Regions from separate parts of the Homo sapiens genome. Here region 2 is linked to region 1. Evidence: fine-mapped expression QTL. A gene starts in region 1. The other region holds a variant in brackets. All regions are shown on one strand. Distances are between the middles of the regions.

Evidence for each region.
Region 2: its variant is fine-mapped to the expression of USP24 in testis (GTEx, PIP 0.94).

Annotation. Positions count from the first base shown.
Region 1 is chr1:55,211,178-55,219,177 of GRCh38, forward strand. It overlaps USP24 (ubiquitin specific peptidase 24), which reads right to left and starts at 4,187. Exons shown (of 68, transcript NM_015306.3): 1 at 3,613-4,187. The coding sequence starts at 3,936. MIR4422HG (MIR4422 host gene) reads left to right here and starts at 6,684. Exons shown (of 2, transcript NR_146283.1): 1 at 6,684-6,755. It overlaps LOC100507634 (a long non-coding RNA gene), which reads left to right and starts at 4,231. Exons shown (of 1, transcript NR_038320.1): 1 at 4,231-6,278. RefSeq lists an enhancer at 3,075-3,134 and silencers at 3,595-3,784, 3,855-4,364.
Region 2 is chr1:55,232,777-55,241,304 of GRCh38, forward strand. MIR4422HG (MIR4422 host gene) reads left to right here. Exons shown (of 2, transcript NR_146283.1): 2 at 836-1,401. Among named protein-coding and RNA genes, the nearest start is that of MIR4422, 11 kb to the left of the region's middle. RefSeq lists an enhancer at 7,528-8,027. The variant A/G (reference allele first, on the strand shown) is at 4,604.

The DNA.
Region 1 (8,000 bases):
GTAAAGAGTGAAGAATTCTGACAGGGGGGTGGTTAAAAATCAGAATAAGTTATTTAGAGCAGCTGTGAGAGCTCACTCTCTTTAATAATAGAACAGACTCTTATGTGCCGTGGAATGATTTTGAAGTAATGCTATTCAAAATCAAAACTGGACAGCTTCTCAAAGTCCCTTCCAGACCCAGAGACCAAGAACATTTACATCCAACAATACTAGTGAGAACCAAACACATCTCTTCTGCAAAACACTATCTTTACTTAATTGGAGGATATTAACAAGGTGGCTTTCTATGCAGTTGTGTGTTTTGCTAGATATCTGGGTCTTTTTTATCTGCATTCTCCTTGCTTCTACTGAACCGGAAGTTAACAGCTTTCACTGTTCAAATATTAATTTTTAAACCAAACCCTAATTACAGCAGGGCCTCAAACTGATTTACCTAACTAGCTACATGACCTTGGACAGTCTTTTCTTGTAAAATGAGAGGCTTGGACTAAGACCCACTAGAATGTAAACACCACGTTCTGTTCAACACTCTACTCCCTGCCCCTGGGACAGGAAGGCATTAAGAGAAAACCATTGCTATCCCCAAACTACAAATATAAAAAAACTTAAGTCATTTCTTTCTTTTCTAATCAATTAGATTTTATTCTGTTTTTCCCATTTTTAAAGAAGACAATGACACTGAAATGTCCTGTGCAGCAAATAGAAATGTATATAATTTAAAATAAGGTACTCAGTTTTTAGAAATAAAAAGGATTAACTATATAATAGCTGACAATCTTCACCCAGTTTTTTTACTCTTCTTCCTTCCCTTTAACCCATTACTGTGTCCCATTCCTTTTTCCTTTGAAAGAGAGCCCGAAAGAGTGCAGGACTTCAAGCAAAAGGGCCTGAGTACTAGCCCCACCTCTTCTATTAACTGACTCTGTGGGGACAAGCCACTTCCCCTTTGGGGCCCGAAAGGGTGCATCTGTTAAACAAGGGAGCTGCACTAATTATTAATTTCTAAAGTATGCTTCTTTTTAAAAAATCTGATTCACCTTATATTCTACCCATTATTCGATTCTTAATGGTTGGTGCTCACCACATCATTGCACAGTAGCCTTAAAATATGTCTTTCCCTCATTATTTCTCCTTACTATCCATACTGTTACCAAACAAATTTAATCCTAAAACCATGAGTTGAGCAGAGTGAAAAGCACACTGGCTTTGAAGTCAAAGAGACCTGGGTTCAAATTCAGCCCCTGCCACCCACTACATAATCATATCCCTAAAAAGCCTACGTTAACTCTCTCACCAAGGGTTAAATAAACTGTATAACGCACCTAAGACAGGGCCTGACACCCTGTAGATGCTGGATAATATTTATTACCTTTCCCTATTTCCCAAGATCAAGAGCCTCAGTTTCCCACTGTGTACACCAAGGATGACCAAGAAGTTCCATAGGTGGCATGCATTAAGATTATTAAACCACAGAGGCACATTCTGCGTTAAATGTTTCCAAAAGGCTCCTGTGTGTCAGGAAAGTCTCAGCCTGCCAACCTCTGCCAATACGCTTCGTGGGTAAAGCAGCCTCAGTCACCAGCTCCTCTTGAACTCTTAAAAGTAAACGGTGCAGCTTCCCTCCCCCAGGCCAAATCCACAGGTCTAGGAGAAATGAGGACTTGATGCACTGCTTCGAAAAGATGGAGATTTTATGGATTTTAATTTACCGCAAACCAAACTCCTTAGCCTGCCATTCACGTAAGAAGCCACTCCCAATTCTTTGTACTTACATGTACTGGCAGTAAGCTAAGGTTAGCGCTAATGTTAACATGAATGCACCAAGCATTGTAATTTAAATTGATTTTCCAATCACAGGAAATTAAAAGGTATGACAAAAGAAAAAAAGAATCACATTTCTCACATAATGAGGATACACTGAGCTTTGCAGAGTTATACAAACACCTTCTGAAAAAGCAACGGCTTTCTTCTTGATTTCAAAACTGGGTCAAAAACTAGAAGGAACGAGGGAGGAGTGATAGGAACTGCCAATGAGAAGCTGATTTCTTAAAATGACTTAAGTATGGTTACTCAATTATATGGGAATTTAAAAAAATTCCCAAACTAGGAATAGTAACAATCTTTATTTCCATATACTAGTCAACGATACAGCTAAGTTAGTGGGTTACAGAGGGCAATCTAGCAACTGTGTCTAAGTGTGGAAGCCAAAGAAATCTTGTGCAGAAACCTGTTCTTTTTAAGTGCCACCTTCTTGTTCAAGCTACTTCAGCCCGAGGAACTGTTGCAAAAGCATACAATTAAAAGGATATAACACTGCTCAGGAAAAAGTGTTTCAAAAGGCTTAGCTTCACTAAGCTTAATTCTTCATTAAGAACGAACCAAATTCGTATCTCTACCTAATAACGCAATCCCAATAATTTGAGATCTGTGCTTTTCTGTGGTCAGGCCAAGCTGCTCTACTGGCCCCTGAAATGAACTACCCAACGAATCTGACCAAAATTCCTGCCATGAGCTACTATGTTTCTGCAAAGTAATTATTCAAAAGCACTGCTGCTTCTGGTCGATCTTTTTTCTTTATTATAGAAGAGTCCGTTTTCTTCCCCCACGTTCCTTGCTCACACCCCAAACTAAACAGGCATAGTCTTCTCCACCTAGACTTGAGGTCTCTGATCAAAGCCATTAGCCTCAAGACTCCTCCTCCACCCCCACTGCGCTCCCACCCTGTTCCGCGCCCCTCTGCATAGCACCCTCAGTATGACTACCATCTCTTTCCCCGGTCTAATTTTCTCTCATTTCTGACCTTATCGATGACCAGTACTCCCTCTTTACCCAGACCTGGTGCCAGCTCTATCTTCCAATTCCAGTCCCCATCCCTGCCTAGACCCTCCTCAGCTCCCACCCCTGCCCAGGCCTCCCACCTCTGCCCTCTCAGTGCAATCCCCACTGCTCTCATACCTGATTTTATTCAAGTCCTCATTCCTGGCCGCGGCCCCTTCCCTCTTCATTTTAAATCCTACTCAATGCCCCCCCTTTCCGACCCTTGGCTAAAACCCCAACCTCACTCCTAACCCCAACAGTTTTCCTGTGATCCTGTCAAAGACCACTACTCTGGCCGGCCCACACCGCTTTTTCTGACTCTGAGCCTGGTGCCTCCGCCAATCCTTCACTGAAACCTCGTGCCACAAAATCTCCGACCTAGCCTAGTGCACTAGTACCCCATTTCCGACCCCCTACTGCACGCATCCTTCCCACTATATGCTCAAGTGTCTGTCCTCCCATCTCGGATGATAGCCCTGGAGCCTCCTCCCCATCGTCGGCGTGCATAGCCGGAAGCCTAAGGGACCCCTCCTCACCCCAACCCACAGCTCCGCTGCGCATCCCTAATTCCCTTTCACACGCCTCTCCTATGGGTCCCTCTCCCCACTTACCCCCAATCAAGTGACTTCGGTTCCCAACTGGAGCCTGGGGCTTCTCTCTCTCTCTCCGCCCCGCCCCCACTAAAGCCCCAGTCGAATGCCCTCTCTCCCCACACCAAGCCCAGCGGGGTGTGTCCCCTCCCAGGAACTCCAGCCCAGTGGCTTCCCACAGAGGTCTGGGGTTGCCCCTCCTCACCTCCGCGTCCACCACCTCGTGGTAGGCGGGCGGGGGGTCGAAGCCGCCCCCGCCTCCGGTGCTCCCGCCGCGGGAGGGGCCGCCGCCGCCGCCGTCACCTCCGCCGTCGCCCCGCGGGCCCCCGCCGGGCCCGGGGCTGGGGCCACCGCCGCTGTCCATGGGCTCGTAGCCGCCGTAGTCGAGGCCCGGCCGCTCGTTGGTGAGCAGTGCCACGGCCTCGTTAATGTCGTTCTTGGCCAGGCGCAGGGCCTTGCGGATGGTGGCGGGGTCTGAGAAGCCCATGCACAGCAGCGTGGTCATGTGCTGCTCCTCCTCCGATTCCATGGCTTGGGCCTCCTGGCCGCCCCGGCCAGCGCACGGCGAAGCTACGGGTCCCGGGCCTGGCGGGCCGCGCGGCGCACCCTCCGCGCCGCCTCCGCGCCCAGGTTGGCCCCTGCGTTCCTGCCCCGGGTGCTCCGCAGCAGCCGGGCCAGGCTGGGTGCGGGCTTGGGTCCTGCGAGCCGAGCTAGTGCGGTGAGGCGCTCAGGCGCGGCTGCGGCCCGGCCCAGCCCTGCGCGCCGCCATGTTGGCCTCCTCCCCCTCCGCCTCCTCCTCCCCGGGCGGCGGGGCCGCGCCTCGGCTCCCGGAAGCGGCACGGGAGGCGACCGTGCTCGCCGTTGGCAGGCTAGGGTTGGCGGCGGCGTATTCTGTTTGTTTTAAACGAAGGAGCGGAGGGAGGGGCCGCGCCGCGGAGCGTGCCTAAGGTGAAAGGGCTGCCGTGCAGCCAGGCAGAGGCGAGGAAGGCTTCTCCATCGTCGCCACCGCCCGCCTGTTTCGCCGGCAACAGGTTCCCCCGGGACGGGAGGGGCCGCAGCGCCGCGCAGCTCGCAGCGCTGAACGTCGCGGAAATCCCTTGGCCGGCCGAGCCTCCGCAGCCGCGACCCGGCTTCTCTCCGTCCGAGTCCCCCGAGCCTCTCCGAACCCCCGTTGGACTTCCCCTCCCTGGCCGGCGCCGCCCGACCCGCTCCCCCATCCTAGAGGGAATTCCCTGCGCCGCGGCTGTGAGGCACCTCCACCCCGGCCTGAAATGCACCGCAGTCCTGAAGGAAATCCACCCTCATCCCACGCAGATTCACCCGCAACGCTGCCTGAATACGCCTCGCTGCCCACAGAAATTCCTGCCCAAACCAGACGCGTGGACCACCCAAGACGAAATTCACACTCGACCCTAGCCCCGCCAGCCCTTGCCGAAATCACCCTAAACCCGTTGAAATTAATTCCCAGCTGTCCGAATTTTCCTTCCAACATTAACTGACTACCTGTCTCCGCCAAGCTGACTGAACTCTACCGAACTCTTACCCTGAAAGCCCCTGAGAGTCCAAAATATATTTTTCCAGCCCGAAATCTAAATCCCAGTTCTCTGTATGAAAACCTCCAGAAACCCAGACTCTTACTTCCTTCGGCCACGGACTCGTTCGAACATCGTGGACATCACCTTCCCACATTTTTACCGCAGTCTTTGGCTCCGATTCTTTGTCCCTGCCTCTTGGGCAGCATCCTATCCCTGTTTCTTTCCACCTTTGAGGATTCCTCTACCTCTTTAAAGGCCTGCTTTCTTTGCTTTCTCTTCTCACCTTTGGCATTGGCACACTGGGGTCATATCTTTAGTTCCCTTGACTCCACCATCTAAGCCAAGGGTGTCCAATCTTTTGGCTTCCCTGGGCTACATTGGAAGGAGAAAAATTGTCTTGGACCACATATAAAATATTCTAACGCTAATGGTAGCTGATGAAACTTTTAAAAAATCTCATCATGTTTTAAGAAGTTTACGAATTTGTGCTGAGCCGCATTCAAAGCCGTCCTGGGCCTAAGTCCTTGCTATTTTTCCTCTTCAATTTCCTTCAATCCATAGTTCTCTAGGTTATTTTCCCACCCTTTCCCAAGATTCGGATATCCCTTCATTCTTGCTGAGTTCATCTCCTATGCCTATTCCTACATACTTGCTGAGTTCATCTTCTAATGTCCTCATCCTGGTTTCTTCCTGAACCTGAAATCCAGCTAACCTTACTTTTTCATCCCATCAAACCCCTGCTGTTGCCAGCCCAGCACTCACGAAGATCTTTACATACACCAAATATTAAATTAGGGCCGGTACCTAGACATTGTCTCTGCACTCTGCTGGCATATTTTCCCCTGGACCACGAACCCTTCGTACCTAGTAACTTGCCACCTGTGTTTATAAATACCAGCAATTTGATTTACAGGGTGAATTTGTCACTATTGTTTACTTTTAAATGAAGTTACTGTATTTGTTGTTTCCATTAAAGGCGACATTATAAAGCCTAGGCCTCATATCCAAAGCAAATAAAGTCTCAATTTTTTAATTAAAAGTAACAAAAGGAAACCTCACACTTCTGAACAACAATGACAAGAAGGAATGCCTATAATTGGTTTGGGTCACAATGTACATATTGAAATAAAATTTTTATTAAGTATCAACTTCCAGGTACACAATGAAGTTTTAAATGTTTATCTGTGACATATGAAGAACAAAGCAATCTAAACTGATGTAAGCAGGCTGTCATAAGGTACATGCTGAGGAATTTATTCAACAAATTGAATAAATTTATTCAATAAATAAATAATTATTCAATAAATAATATATTTAATAAATTTAATAAATAGAATAAAAATGATTCTATTTACTGGGTGCCAGGTACTATTCTTCGCACAGACAAAAATTAGATGATGGCAAAGTGAGGGCATTCAATTCTGCCCTGTGTTTGAAGAGTTAATTACTAAGAAATGAATTACAAGGAGAGAGGAAGTAACAAGTAACAAAAAAATTGTTTGCCACTAAAATTTGAGGTAGAACCTAAAAGGTCATGAAAGAGCCGACTGAATCAGATGGCACGTTAAAAGACTCATCAACGGTGGCAGGTTTATAGAACATGACAGAGGAAGCTGTGCTTAGCTGAGAAGAGGAAGCAGAGAAGGAAGCAGAGAAAAACAAAGTCTGTGATAAAAACTGGAAAGGAGCCACAAAAGGCCACAAAAAACAAGGAAGTCCATTTTGGAACCGGATCCTGGAGTGACTGAAAAGGCAGAGTGTCATTTGAGGATGCGAGTAGTATAATCATACTTTTTTGCATGGAAGAAAGCAAGTGAGTACTTTAAACTGTGGAATTGGGATAGCAGGGGTGGGGCCTATGATATGAATATTCATACTTTTCATTTACATTTTTATTTTTATTGCAGTAAAATCTAGAAAATGTTGAGAGGATTTTTAAAAATTTAAATTACATTCAATTCCCATACATCTTTCTCTAGAAAGGTTCTAAAGGAAAAGAAAAAAATAGCTACATAGAGAAGTAAGGTATGATGAACTATCTTGAAGACTGAGGGTTTTCTACTGTTAATAAGTAAGTTTTCAAATTATAGATTGAATATCTACTTTGAGCCAGGCTGAGGACTAGGGAGACAATTGTGAGAAAAACATTACACAATTTCTACCCCTTTGGATCTTACTGTCTATAATAAAGGGAAATAGACAAATAATAGTCATAAAGCATGATAGACGCTTTGATGGGGGAATTTCAGGATATAAGGGGCAAATTTCTGCCCTCTGTGGGGGTAATTACCAAGTCTAGGAAAACTGAAAATTTTCCCAGAGAAGACGACGTTCAAACTATAATCTGACGTAAGGTTGGAAAGCCAGGAAAAGGAATATGAAATGAAGGGAGAAAGTTCCAAAGAACGGGAACAACATGTGCAAAGGTCCTGTTGTGGGTGAGAATAAAGCAATTTGGAGGAATTAAAAGCCAGTGGAGTATAGAATTCTAGAGAGATATGGATTGAGCATTCCTAACCTGAAATCTGAAATGCTCCAAAATCTGAAAAAAAAAAGTATTTTCTTATTCTTTTTTGTCTTCTTATTAAGAGATGGGGTTTCACCATGTTGCTCAGGCTGGTCTCAAACTCCTGAGCTCAAGTGATCTTCTCACCTCGGCCTCCCAAAGTGCTGGGATAACAGGCATGTGTGAGCCACTGCACCCAGCCCAAAATTTGAATTTTTTTTTTTTTTTTTTTTGGAGACAGAGTCTCACTCTGTCACCCAGGCTGGAGTGCAGTGGCACCATCTCGGCTCACTGCAACCTCTGCTGCAGGTTCAAGCAATTCTCCTGTCTCAGCCTCCTGAGTAGCTGGGATTACAGGCATCTGCCACCATGTCCAACTAATTTTTGTATTTTTAGTAGAGGCGAGGTTTCACCATGTTGGCCAGGCTGGTCTCAAGCTCCTGACCTCAAGTGATCTGCCTCCCTTGGCCTACCAAAATGCTGAGATTACAGGTGTGAGCCACCATGCCCAGCCCCCAAAATTTGAAAACTTGAGTGGTGACGTGATGCCAC
Region 2 (8,528 bases), 22 kb after region 1:
GAGAACGAATTCAGGGTGAGTCCATAGAGTAAAGTGAAAGCAAGTTTATTAGGGAAATAAAGAAACAAAAGAATGGCTATTCCATAGGCAGAGCATCCCTGAGGGCTGCTGGTTGGCTATTTTTACTGTTATTTCTTGATTATATGCTAAACAAGGGGTGGATTATTCATGAGTTTCCTGGAAAAGGGAAGAACCCCAGAACTGAGGGTTCTACTCCCTTTCAGACCATATAGGGTAACTTCCAGATGTTGCCATGGCATTTGTAAACTGTCATGATGCTGGCGTGTGTCTTTTAGCATGCTAATGCATTATAATTAGCATATAATGAGCAATGAGGAATTTTGTCACCACTTTGGTTTTGGTGGGGTTTAGCTGTCTTCCCCTGCCCCCCACCCCCCCAATCCAGTTTTATCCGCAGGGTCTTTGTGATCTGTATCTTGTGCTGACCTCTTATCTTATCTTGTGACTTAAGAATGCCTAACCTCCTTGGAATGCAGCCCAGTAGGTCTCAGCCTTATTTTACCCAGCCCCTATTCAAGATGGAGTCGCTCTGGTTTGAATGCTTCTGACGCCGTGATTGGTTTAGACTCAATCTCACACTCTCTTTGTGGCATAGGAGATGTGTTTTCAGAAATCCAGAAAGGAGCTTAGACAAAACAGTAGTCTCAGGGAACATAGCTAGTTAAGTGATGGAACTGAGATTTGAAGTCAGATCTGTCTGACTCCAAAGTCCATGTTTTTTTTGTTTGTTTTCTCTGTGGTTTGTTGTTTCTATGATGTGGCTTCTGTCACCCTGACTCTCCTTTTGTCTTTTGTCCCTCACCACCTTCTGTAGTTTCCCAGTCCTCCTGACTCATACCAGGGAAGCCTCCTGTGTCCATATACAATGAAGGCTCAGGGACTTCTAACTCCTGGTGGACTGGCTGATTGAGCCCTGGAAGTGTACTTTCTCCTTCATTTCCCTCCTGACTCTCGCTGGGAGAGTTGTAGACTCCTGGGAAACACAGGTCTATGGCCTGCCTAAGAGAGGACCAGCCCACACCAAAGAAAGTGCCACTGCCTCCTCCTCCTCAGTGGATGCCACCAAGCCCCGAGGAGGACAACCTTTTCCTTAATCTCCTTGAAACCCAGGCAAACTTTGACAAAAGGAAAGGTGTTTCCAGTGTGTTGTTAACTGAACCTTGGTTGCTTGGCAGTATGCAGTTCTTGTCTAATTTACCCCAAGGAAATGTCTGTGTGATGTATTTTTAATTTGCTGAAGAAGGATAAGTGTTCAAACCTTTGTACATTTATGCTGAAATTAATTTTTCAAAGTCCACATAACTTCAGTGCTGTGGGATAGTCCTTAAGAACAGAAATTATGACCAACCATAATAAATGACACATTTTTGTGAAATGTCATCTCTCATAAAGTTGTTGTGAAACTTAAAGAGGATGAAGCTTGGAAACCACCCAGCACCATGCTTGGCATATGAGTTGCCTTTCCTCTTATTCCCTTTCTAGCTCTTGGGGTAATAGAAGCTACAAGACGTAAAATTCCTGTGTGTATGGGGTAGGAATAGCTTTGGCTGTAAATAACAGAAAACTCAACACAAGAGCATAAAGAAAGAAGATCGGCCAGGCCTGGTGTCTCACGCCTGTAATCCCAGCACTTTGGGAGGCTGAGGCGGGTGGATCACCTGAGGTCAGGAGTTTGAGACCAGCCTGGCCAACGTGGTGAAGCCCCGTCTCTGCTAAAAATACAGAATTTAGCCGGTGTGCTGATGTGCGACTATAATCCCAGTTACCAGGGAGACTGAGGCAGGAGAATTGCTTGAACTTGGGAGGAGGAGGGTGCAGTGAACTGAGATTGTACCACTGCACTCCAGCCTGGATGACAGATGACAGAGCAAGACTCTGTCTCAAAAAAAAAAAAAAAAATCTTTTTCCCTCACAAGTCTGATGTTGGAATCTGGAATCTGTGGGTTTGGTTTTAGTCTGGGAGCCCACTAAACCTATGGCTAATAGTTGTTCAATTCTCCTGGCCTTTTCTTCAGGCATATTGGTAAATAGAGGTAGCCAAGGGAGAAAATGGTCAAGAATGGGTCTTGGGTCATCTAACTTGTAATATTTGCTACACTGAAGCTTTCAGTGTAATTCTTAGCTGTTCTGCAAAGCTGGGGAGGGAGTTGGAGTTGGTGGTCAGTTAGCAAGAGTCAACTTTGCTTTCTCCCCTTTGTGTAACTAAAAGACCCAGTAGAGCACAGTCAGATCCCATCTGGAACATATAGGGGTGTGTTAAGCTGCACAGTCAGTAGGAAGCCATTTCATGGGAGCCAATTGTTAAATTTTTAGGAATTTTGTGAGCCAGCTGATAAACAGACATTATTAAAAGTTGAATTATAGGCTGGGTGCAGTGGCTCACGCCTGTAATCCCAGCACTTTTGGAGGCCGAGGGCGGCGGATCACCTGAGGTCAGGAGTTCGAGACCAGCCTGGCCAACATGGCGAAACCCCATCTCTACTAAGAATACAAAAATTAGCCGGGTGTGGTGGCACATGCCTGTAATCCCAGCTACTTGGGAGGCTGAGGCAGGAGAACGGTGTGAACCTGGGAGGCGGAGCTTGCAGGGAGCCAAGATTGCGCCACTGCACTCCAGCCTGGGCGACAGAACAAGACTGTCTCAAAAAAAAAAAAATTGAATTATATGAACTTATAATTAAATGAAGTGCATACAAAAAGATAATAAATACTCAAACACCATCACAAATAATACTCAAATGCTACATTTTACTATTAACTATGCTCTTGGGGATATTTATGTCTACTGTATCTGTATGGTATTTTTAAAATGTGTTACTGTGCATTTCTTCCCATCTCTAAGTTTAGTAGTAGTATGTTGATGGCTTCAAATTGGCCATGGGAGTATTTAAACCAAAAGAAATCAGCAAATGCCACAAATCTGTCAATTATTTATTTGAGAGAATTAGTTGCTGAACATTCACCAGCACACCACTGGGCTCAATCCTAAAAATCAGTAATTTGGAGACAGGATGGAAGTGCATGTACATTTGGGATAATTAAGTAGGAATTTCAAAACGATTTTCAGATCCTTGCCAGAGATAAAACACAAACAAGTGGTTTCTTGTGTTCGAAACTAATGCAATAAGAATGCGCTTCATAGGCTGCTTTCGTTTTGCAGGGATACAGAGAGAAGTGTCATTTCCTCAGCTCTTGGTACTTAAGAGTCATTCCCAAACAACAGTGTTCATTGTCACTATCATCCTTAATAAAAACTCACTGCACCTCTACTATGAGTGAGATTCTGAGCTTAACCAAGTGACATAAAAGATGACCTCTGTTTTCAAGGAGCTGATGATTAAACTAGAATATTCACAGAAAAAAATAAATGAGAGAAGTCTATTCTGAATGCTTCATACTTTCTCTTCATAGCACTTACCTTGATTTGTAAATATACACATACACACAAATATTTATATTTATATATTTGTGTATATATTATATCTATACACACACACATACATAGTGTATACTTGCGTAAATGTTTGTTTCATATTGTGTCTTCTATTAGCCCACAAGTTCCATTGGGGTGGCAGCTGCATCTCATTGTTCACAGCAGCGTCCTTGTATCTGCTCAGTGTCTGGCAGATAGTAGGTACTCAATTAATGTTTGTGGAATGTACATAAATAAAAGAAATGAACATTATGGACAATTGGAGCTATAAGAGATGAGAGGAAGGAACACTTAGCAATGACTGGAATGATTGGAAAGGCTTTAAGGAGGTGCTAGGACTTGAGTAGGACTTCGAAGGAAGGGTAAGGCATAAATTAGTTACATGACACATTCTACAGAAGATATGTAAGCCTGGAATGGAAAGTTTATTCCTTTTGTTGGAGTTGGAACAAACCCAGTGGAGCTTCTGGGTTAGGGTCACCAGGGTTATATTCAACTGAACTGTGGTATTACCTGGACTCGAAGGAGCTAGATGCAATTTGAGAAGCAAATGCAGATCAAGGCCCGGAAAGGAACTCAAGGTTGAGTGAAAAGAACGATATCCATTCAGAGATCTAAAGGACAATTTTGAGGTCGCACCTAAGAGACTAGGGAAGCAAAAAAATGCAGGATGGCAAGCAAGGCTGGAAGAGGCAGAGTTTTATTTAGCCTGTGCTCTTCTTCTTCTTTTTTGCCAAGTAAGTTTGGTTTATTAGAACATAACACACTTTAAGCTTGTTAGAAACTTACTTACACATAAAATAAACAGAGCTTAGAATGTTTTCGTTTTATTATTATTTTAAATTAGAGACGGGATCTTGCTATGCTTCCCAGACTGGTCTCAAACTTCTGGACTGAAGTGATCCTCCTGCCTTGGCTTCCTAAAGTGTTGGGATCATAGGCATCTGCCACCAGCCCCGACCTAGAATATTTTCTTTTCTTTCTTTTTTTTAAATTTTTTTGAGACAGAGTCTTACTCTGTCTCCCAGACTGGAGTGCAGTCTGGGTTCGAGCGATTCTCACCTCAGCCTCCGAAATAGATGGGCTTACAGGGATGTAAAAATTACCACGCCCTGCTAATTTTTGTACTTTTAGTAGAGACGGGGTTTC[A/G]CCATGTTGGCCAGGGTGGTCTTGAACTCCTGGCCCCAAGTGATCTTTCCATCTCGGCCTCCCAAGGTGCTGGGATTATAGGTGTGAACCGCTGCACCCAGCCTAAAATATTTTCTTGATGGCTATTACAATAAGAAATAAAAATATAATAACTTTGTTTCCCCACTCTTTGTAGCCTCATTTCCCTCACTCCCTATTGGGCATTCAATATATAGTTCCAGATAGAATAAAATAAATCCTCAATACGAGATTAAGCTTAAAAGACTATTCAGGAAACCATTTTTTGAACAAAACTAAACCAGAACATGTTTCTCACAAATGCCAATTAAAGAAACAAGAAATAAAATCCCTATCATTATTAATATATTTAAATATAATGTGCATCTTGCCACAGGCTGCATTTTAGGATACTTATTTCAGATGTATTAGGGAAATTTTGGAAATACAAAAAAGATGAAAAATTAATGCTAAAGGAGTAATTATAAATCAAGACAGAAATGATATTATGGGCCAGGCGCAGGGACTCACGCCTGTAATCCCAGCACTTTGGGAGGCTGGGGCAGGCGGATCACCTGAGGTCAGGAGTTCAAGACCAGCCTGGCCAACATGGTGAAACCCTGTCTCTACTAAAAATACAAAATTAGCCAGAAGTGGTGGCACACGCCTGTCATCCCAGCTACTCGGGAGGCTGAGGCAGGAGAATCACTTGAACCCGGGAGGTGTAGGTTGCAGTGAGCTGAGATCATGCCATTGTACTCCAGCCTGGGCAAAAAGAGTGAAACTCCATCTCAAAAACAAACAAACAAAAATTATGGAAGCATTGTACACAAATCAAAGTGGGAAAATTGTTTTAGAAGTAGGTAAGTCAAGATAAGAAATATCAGAAAAAAAAAGCCCTTTCTTTTTTCAACCAAGATTTGCTAAAAGGTTTTTGTTGTCCAGTAATTCACATTGATCCACAAAGACAGCATTAAACAAAATAGGCTTAAACTGTAATATAAGATATTTAGGTTGCATAATACAAGATTTGTTTCAGTGAAGATTACTAACCAACAGAATTTTGGTATAATAAATATAAATGTCTTTTCATATATTTTTATTTTATTGAGCAAATGTAAGAGGGTTGATAATCTATCACATCTCTTCTATGCTTTTTGCTTCAGGGTATTTACAGATTTAACAGGGTTTTTTTCCTCTTGTTATTTATTCAATTATAATTAAAGACTTTACCTGCAGAAATAAGTCACATGAAATAACAATGGAAAATCTGAACAAAATTGATTACTTCCAAATATCATTTCACAAAACAACCATTCTGTCTTATGGTATATCCCAAATATATTAGGGAAAACAAGAATAAGATGATAATTCTTTATTTTCTTTCCTCTTACATCACAAAAAGTAAGCAAAAACAACAAATAAGAATCGCTACCAGGTGTGGTGGCTCATGCCTGTAATCCCAGCACTTTGGGAGGCCAAGGAGGGAGGATTGCTTGAACTCAGGAGTTGGAGATCAGCCTGGGCAACATAGCAAGAACTTGTCTCTACTAAGAAAATAAAAATGAAAAAATAAAAATAAAAAATCAGCTGGGCATGGTGACACATGCCTATAGTCCCAGCTATTTGGGATGTTGAGGTGGTAGGATCTCTTGAACCTGGGAGATCAAGGTTCCAGTGATCTGTGATCATGCCACTGCACTCCAGCCTGGGTGACAGAACGAGACCCTATCTCAAAAAAAAAAAAAAAAAAAAAAAAAAGAATTGCTAATGCAACCCATATTTTAAAGATTTATCCTGCATCTAGATGTCAAAGGAATAAAGGAGTGAACAAAAAGGGAACTATATTGATTCAGTGATTAAGGAATAAATGTTTTGTAGAAAACTTAAAGGTTTTCTTTTTTTTTTTTTGAGATGGAGTCTTGCTCTGTCGCCCAGGCTAGAGTGCAGTGGTACGATTTCGGCTCACTACAACCTCCGCCTCCTGGGTTCAAGCAATTTTCTGCGTCAGCCTCCTGAATAGCTGGGATTCCAGGCACCTGCCACCACACCCGGCTAAGTTTTGTATTTTTAGTAGAGATGGGGTTTCACCATCTTGGCCAGGCTGGTCTTGAACTTCTGACCACCTGCCTCGGCCTCCCAACGTGCTGGGATTATAGGCGTGAGCTACTGCGCCTGGCTGAAAACTTGAAGTATTTTTAGAAAAAGAGAAGAATTAAGTTTTCATAAAAGAAAATCTAAAACTAGAATGGGATAAAAGATTCCTAGGGCAGGTTGATAATATTCCAAGTGATGCTAAATACCTATTTATGGAAACAAATGGTTTTTTTCTTCTGTCGAGTTGCACCTATGCAAGACAGATGAGACAATGACTATGCACATTTACATTTTATGCTAAGACAAGGGAAGAATGAAAGCCTGGCTAGTTCTTGTACTTGTCTCTTTTTTAAAATATTAAGAAGAAAATGAAATGGAAAGAATGATTTAGAAAAGAAAAAAGGAGTATAGCTTGAGTACCATGAAGATGGCTCATTTAAGGAAGTGGTATAATGACAAGTTCAATAATTAAGATACTTTTCTTTTATTTCAGAGCCAACAAGAGGCAGTGTGCTCTAGAACAGCATTTCTTAAACATTTCTTAACCCCCTGGGGGTCATAAGAAGCCAATTCTCATTGAGCAGTTCTGGGGCAGGGCCTGATAGTCTGCATTTCTAGCAAGCTCCAAGGTAAAGCCATGCTTGCTGCTAGTCCAAGGCCAACACTTGGATCAGTAAAGCTGTAAAATTAATGTTAATCTAAGTCATAAAGAAGACAAATGAAAATGTCAGATAATTTTGTCCTAGGGAGAAGATTTAAAGCCCGGCTAATTTTTTGTATTTTTAGTAGAGACGGGGTTTCACCGTGTTAGCCAGGATGGTCTCGATCTCCTGACCTCGTGATCCGCCCGCCTCGGCCTCCCAAAGTGCTGGGATTACAGGCGTGAGCCACCGCGCCCGGCCGTACTCTTGATTTTTACATCCCATCGCCCTGCCCAGTTTTTCCCCCTCCTGCCTTTCCCATTTCATTGAATGGAATCTGTCTATTCTCCCTGGTACTCCTCATCCTTAATATTTCCCTTTCCTTCACCAGTCCTCCTTCCCACCAAGCCACAGCTAATCCAACAGCAAAACAAGTTCAATTAATTCTCTCTCTCTCTGTTTTTTTTTTTTTTGAGATGGAGTCTTGCTCTGTGGCCCAGGATGGAGTATAGTGGCAGGATCTCGGCTCACTGCAACCTCCACCTCCCAGGTTCAAGCGATTCTCCTGCCTCAGCCTCCCAAGTAGCTGTGCCACCATGCCCAGCTAATTTTTGTATTTTTAGTAGAGACAGGGTTTCACCATTTGGCCAGGCTGGTCTTGAACTACTGACCTCAGGTGATCTGCATGCCTCGGCCTCCCAAAATGCTGGGATTACAGGTGTGAGCCACTGCACCCGGCCCAAGTTCAATTAATTGTACCTCCACAATATATCTTGACTCCAATGACATCTCCTCTACTGACATATCTGTAATCCAGGATAACATCTGGACCACTCTGACTAGCTTTCTACCTAGTTTCTCAGCTGCCATTCTCACTCTTCTGTCTGTTCTCCACAAGAAACCAGAGTGATCTTTTAAAAATGTAAATTAGCCAATATCTCTCATGAACTTAGATGCAAAAATATTTAACAAAATATTAGCAACTTGAATCAAGCAATGTATAAAAAATTATATACCATGACCAAGTGGGATTTATTCCAGGGATACTGGGCTGCTTCAGTATTTGAAAATCAAATAATGTTATCCACAACATTAACAGACTAAAGAAGAAAATTCACATAATTATCTTGATTGATGAAGAAAAAAACATTTGACAAAATTCAATACCCATTCATGAAAATTTTCAAAAA